Linked DNA regions of Homo sapiens: region 1 is linked to region 2. Evidence: fine-mapped expression QTL. A gene starts in region 2. The other region holds a variant in brackets. All regions are shown on one strand. Distances are between the middles of the regions. Region 1 overlaps PEBP4 (phosphatidylethanolamine binding protein 4). Region 2 holds the start of PEBP4 (phosphatidylethanolamine binding protein 4).

The links. PIP is the estimated chance that this variant, and not a neighbour inherited with it, causes the effect. A credible set is the group of variants that fine-mapping cannot tell apart.
Region 1: its variant is the best candidate, but not a certain one, in a credible set for the expression of PEBP4 in lung (TOPMed, PIP 0.52).

What each region holds. Positions count from the first base shown.
Region 1 is chr8:22,742,889-22,745,791 of GRCh38, forward strand. The region is part of intron 4 of PEBP4 (phosphatidylethanolamine binding protein 4); the gene reads right to left. It overlaps LOC124901908 (a long non-coding RNA gene), which reads left to right. Exons shown (of 3, transcript XR_007060855.1): 2 at 1,706-1,853. Among named protein-coding and RNA genes, the nearest start is that of EGR3, 51 kb to the left of the region's middle. RefSeq lists a silencer at 996-1,055 and enhancers at 1,106-2,305, 1,344-2,151. The variant C/G (reference allele first, on the strand shown) is at 1,492.
Region 2 is chr8:22,926,269-22,929,171 of GRCh38, forward strand. It overlaps PEBP4 (phosphatidylethanolamine binding protein 4), which reads right to left and starts at 1,646. Exons shown (of 7, transcript NM_144962.3): 1 at 1,555-1,646; 2 at 1,316-1,452. The coding sequence starts at 1,446.

The sequences.
Region 1 (2,903 bases), 180 kb before region 2:
AGTCTGGCAGGACACAAGAGTCAAGAGATCATTACAGCTGTGATGAACGCTAGGAAGAGGAAGCGCAGAGAGCCTTGGGGGAACAGGGAGGGCTTTCTGGAGGAGGCTGCATAGACTCTCTGCCAGCTACTGGTGCTTGGTTGGGGCAGGCGGTGAAGGGCTGTGTGCTGGGGAGCCAATGCTCTCTTATGCCAGACTCCAGTGCCCAGGCCTCTTATGCCAGCCTCCTGTCCCCAAGAAGCCCCAGGCCCTTATCAGTGCTTCCTTGGGCTACCTGACCTCCCCTTGGGCTGCCCAGCTGCTGGGGCTGGGGAGTGAGCAAGGGCAGTGAGAGTGAGGCCTGCCTGAGAGTGGAGGCTACTGACCTCCTGGGCAGGACCTCCTTCCCAGAAGCAGAAGCAGAGCTCCCTTTGGGGGAGAAACCCCCTCAGTTTCTACTGTAATAAAGAAGGGGCCTGAGCTCTTGCTGGAGCCTCTAATGACGGGGTTGAGGTGTAATGAATATCTGTGTACTCATAAAACAGGCTAATGACGGCCCTCGGCCCTCATTTTATGGACCCGTTTCATCCTTACTTGTTCCCAAACCAGAAGGGACCATCCTGGGGGCTGAGCCAGGAGCCTGATGGCAGCCCCAGACCACAGCTGTTTGGAGTGGGGGCTAAATGGTTCCTGAGCCTGAAGCCCCTCCGGAGCTGCCTTTTCCTCCTCCATCCCTTATCTGGTTGAGACAAAGTGAGGAATTTAGGTCAATGGCTGACAACAACCAGCCTTAGGAAATGGGCAGGGGACAGGGAGGGAGGAAGTGCATCCACCCTGATTCTTAAGAGTGTCAACACTTGTCACACATGGAGGCCAGAAAGAGCATTCAGCACCTGCCGGCAGCACCACGCCCCTTTCCTCTGCCCAGGTACTGATAGGAGCTCCCTGAATCATCCCAGTTGCAATTCCAACACCTGAGCAGAACTAGACTCCGTGGAGGGTGGGGCTGGCCCGCTGAATCACCAGTAACACCTGTGTTTTGCTTGTGAGGTCTCCCTGCTCACTCGGGGACCAGCCAAGCCTGACCCTGTTTGGCTTCTCGGAGCTTGGTGAGATCACAGCCTGGGGGTTGTGGCTGCAGGCCAGTGTGACCTGCTGTGCAGGGAGTATTTTTAAAGAGATACTTGCCCTGTGTTCCCAGGATCAGCTCCCTGAGAGACTCAAGTTGTTCTTTGAATTCTGCCTCCCTCTCCCAATTTGATTGTAGACATTGGTCAGGGGAACATAAAATCACTTGGGATAAAGTGTGTAGTGGAAATTAACATGCAATCTTCTTGCCATAGACAAGCCCCTGGGGGATGCCCAGGGAGTCTTGGTGACTGGTAGCACCTGAGGGAGGTGGGATGAGCAGAATCAGACTCCCTAATTCCCTTGAGGATGCAGAGATAGACTCACCTGTTTTCTCCTGAGTTCTAGAACTGCCTAACTGTGGTCTTCCGGTCAGAGCCTGGA[C/G]AGGAGCCACAGGCCACCATGACAGGGTCTGCCGGTGGAAAAAGACTCATGTATGAGTCAGCCTGCTGCCTCGGTTCCCAGCCAGATGCGGGCCCAGCCCTGCCTCCAGGCCATCTGCCGAAAATTGGGGTCAGTGGAGGGCAGAGGAGCCCACGCATGCAGGTTCCTCGTGCCCCTAACCAAGCTCCCCTTTTCATGTCCTCTCTTCTTGCAGACATCGCCTTCTTACAATGCAGAACAGACGATGCACTGTCTCAGGTCACGCTTAGCCTCCTACGGGGGCACGACAGAAGAAGAGGAACATTTAGAGAGGCACAGCTCCTACATCCTTGGATGGGGAGAGTGGGGAGCAAACAGGCCAGGTGAGTCACTTGGGGGTTGGGCCATGGTTGTTAGACAGTGACAGCAGTCCTGGACCCGTATCCAGCACTCTCCACTCTAGGGGTTTCAGGCCCTTGTGCACTGCTGTATCACTTAATCCTCCTTCACCAGGAGGCAGAGAGGGTAGCGTTTGCAGATGGGGACACAAGCTCTGGAGAGGTTAATGACTTGCCGGAGATGGGAGTTCCAATCGGCAGCAGATCAGCAAATGGAATGCGGGTGTCCTGGCCCGTGATCTAAGTCTCCTGATTCATAGTCTAATGTTCTTTTGTCTACACCTCAGAACAAAGAGGGGCTGTGTTCAGAAAATTGATTCTGAAGGGAAGGGAATATTTTTTTCCCTTTGCTGGAATTTCTCTGGAGACTTCGGACTTGCTCAAGTTGGATGGAAAAGCCCGTCTAGATCTTCCCAGCTCTCTCCTGGGTTATGCCCGGGCCTGGGGGCAGAAAGCTTTTGAGACAGGGACAGGCCACATTCTCCAGTGCCCTCTCGACTTAGGGGACCCTGTGCACTGTGGTGGGGAGGTGTCACTGAGAGTGGTGTGATGAGTCACCATGTCCCCAGCCTTGGGTCCCGCAGAGGATTGGGGGAGTGAGCCCTGCAGGGATGTGGGGTAGCCCTGGTGATTCAGGGCAGGGGCAGAGGCTGGGGCCCCATGGCTAAAAGTTTCACGGATCCCAGGCTGAGACCTCCAGAGCCCCTGTCTAGCTCAACTGAGAAGAGTTGATGAAGTTCCTTGTGAGCTTGGCTCATGGATGATCTCAGTCTCAAGTGTACTACTCTGATTCTCTTTATCTTTCCAATCCAGTTCACACTTCTTTCCTCTGTGAAGCCTTCCTTCTCCCAGCATTCCCTCCCCTCACCCTACTGTGTTGTGGCCACCACTCTGCCTGGGACTACAGCCATTTGTCCTTCTGCCTCTCCTCTGCCTGAGAGCAAGGTGAGAGGATCCCGTTCCTGTTCTCCATCTCCTGCCCGTAACACAGGAGGAAGACACACAGGATGTATTTGGGGAACAAGGGGAGGAACT
Region 2 (2,903 bases):
CCCAGCCTACACCCAGAACTATTTAACAAGATTTTTCAAAATATACTGACACGAACAAAGTTTGTTACTTTTTGTTGTTGTTGTTGTTGTTGTTTAGGCAGGGTCTGGCTCTGTTGCCCAGGCTGGAATGCAGTGGCGCAATCATGGCTCAGACCAGCCTTGACCTCCTGGGTTTAAGCGATCCTCCCACCTCAACCTCTTGAGTAGCTGGGACGACAGGTGTGCATCAGCATGCTTGGCTAGTTTTTAAACTGTTTTGTAGAGAAAAGAGTCTCTCTATGTTGCCCAGGCTGGTCTCAAACCCCTGGGCTCAAGTGATCCTCCACCTTGGCCTCCCAAAGTGCTGGGATTACACATGTGAGCCACTTCACCCAACAAAAATGTTACTTTTTAAGAAGGATTCAACTACATAATTTTAAGAGAAGACATGTATTTATGGTTCTAAAAGTAATGTTTGTCAAAAATGTTTTAAATAAAATTAAAAAGAAAAACAAACATTTTCATGAACAGTAATGTTTGTGAAAATTCAAAGGTACAGAAGAGAGTAAGTAGTCAAAGTTCTTTTTCCTCCTCTCTCATTTCTCACACGTGGGCTCAGTGGGGTGTCCCCCTCCTCAGCCACCAAACTGGCAGGGAGGTTTGGCATCAGTTTGGCCTGGGGAGTCCTCAGGATGACCCACAAGTCCACACAAATGAAGGCTTGCTTTTCTAACCGGCAGAGTTGGTGAGGAGAGAGCCGAACGCCAGGCTTTCCAGCTTACCCAAAGTAGAAGCAGCTTGTGCCCTTGGAAGGGAAGAAGCCAGCCTCGTCACCCAACTCCATCCAGTGCCATGATCCCTAAAGGGCCCTGCACAAACGCTCCTGGGTCCTATCACTGACAAAAACCTCTCACACAGGAAGGGTCTAATCATACACCTTCTTTCATTCAAATGCCTCTTTGTTGGGGTTCTGGGGAGAGGGGGCATTCAGGCTGCAGGGAGGGATGGTCTCTCTCTGGGTCTCTCTCTGAGGGTCTCAGCCTCCTGCCCCCACAAAGACCCCCCAGGTTTGGAGGGCCCAAGCAGAGCCGACCACATACACAGCCCTCCTGGTCCTGGGAGAGGTGCATTCTGGAAGGCAGGAAGGAGTCTGTTTCTAAATCCCTTTCTCAGTGCCATCCTCCATCAAGGTGGTCTCCAGATCTGACACGTGTTCTGCCTTCCCATAAAATCAGGCTCAGGAGATGGTGCTTCTTGGTTCTGGATATACCCCTCCCTGCCATCTACCTGCCTGGTAGCCTCTGTGCCTCCCGCCTCCAAGCCTGCCCTGACTTACTGGCAAAAGAGGGTGTCCTCGTCCAAGAGGGCCTCATGGGCACACGGGCTGTTCTCATCCTCGTCTCCAGTGACCACCATCATGAGACCCAGTAACAGTGCTGCTGTGACCAGCCTCATTGTCCAACCCATGGGCACCTGGAACAGAAAGAACTTTAGAGCGGCTGGATCCCCTGCAGGGGCCTTCCTGCCCACTACCTGTGCCCCCGACCCCAGGGGCCCACTTGGCAGGATAGAGACCTCTGGTTAAGCACAGGGAGAAGGACAGGCAGCTTCCAGGGCTCCGCAGCTAATCCAGTCCACCACCCGGACACAAGTACTTTGGGAGGACTGGGCCTCTTCCAAGTTGGACTCAATGTACGTTCCTGGCAGAGGCCCCTCCCCTGGCAGGACACAGCTTTGTTGTCACTCTTGTCCTGGCTGCCAGGGCAGAGAGCAGGCTGCAAAGTAGAAGTGCTTATATAAGCTCCTCGGTGCAGCTCCTTGTCCAGTCCCTGCTGTTGGCCCAGGGATGGTCAGCTGGCCAAAGGCCAGCCTGCTCCTTGGCTGTAAGGCAAGCCCTGGGAAGCTGGTGACCCCAGGCTCAGGGCTAGGAGTTGGGCTGTGCCCCTCAGACCGGCTCTGACTCTCCTGGCCCCCATTCTTCCACCACCTGTCTCCACAGCCTGTGAGCTTCCCCAAGGTGGAGGTGGTTGGACACAGTGACCTTGTGTAGGAGGGACTGCTGCAGGGGGTGGGGGTAGGTGCACCCCAGACCGAGGCCAGCTCCGAAGGGCCAGCTCCGAAGGGCCAGCTGAGGACAGAAGGGTGCGTCTGGGTGCACCTTGCAGCTGTGCTGCACTCAGCACTCTCCCAAAATAATCGTATCTGGAGAAGGAGGTCTGGGGAGCTGCTTGGGGCTCAGAAAGGGGTGGCCTGCCCCAGCAGTGCACTGGGAGGAAGGGGAGCCGGGGACTGTCGCCTGCATTCCCTTGGGGAACAGTCCTGCCACCAGGTGCATGTGGGACTCTGGTTTGAGCCTGAGTGGGCAGGGAGAAGAATAAAGGCGGCTTGCAACAGGCTTTCCAATAGCTCTGCTCTCTGCTTCTCAGAGGCGGGGGTGGGAGAGACGTGCCAGCAACTCAGGACTCCTGGCTTCTGCTCTGAGCTCTCTCTGGATGCTGGGAGGCCACTGTGTCTCCCTAGAATGCACCACTTTTCCTTTTCACAAACAAGTAAAATAATTCCTGTCACCGTGGTGCCTTGCTAAGGAATATGAGATCATCGCTGTAAAGTACACGCAGCTAGACCTTTAGAGAAACTACTTTCAGCATAGTCTGCTTTCTGGCTCAATTCCTGCCTCCAGGATCCCAACCTGTAGCAAAAAGCCCCCCTTAGGGGCTACATATTAAACACATTTCTCAATCATTAGGTTCTCTGAAGTACAACCAGGACTCCCCCTTGCCCCAACCAGAAAACATATTCCCAAGATCTCCCCTAGTGGACAGAGTCTAATAGTAGCCTCCTCACAAGATCATTATGAGAATGAAATCAACCAGGTTAAGCCCTCAGTAAGGTGCCTGGCACATAGTAAATGCTCAATAATTTAT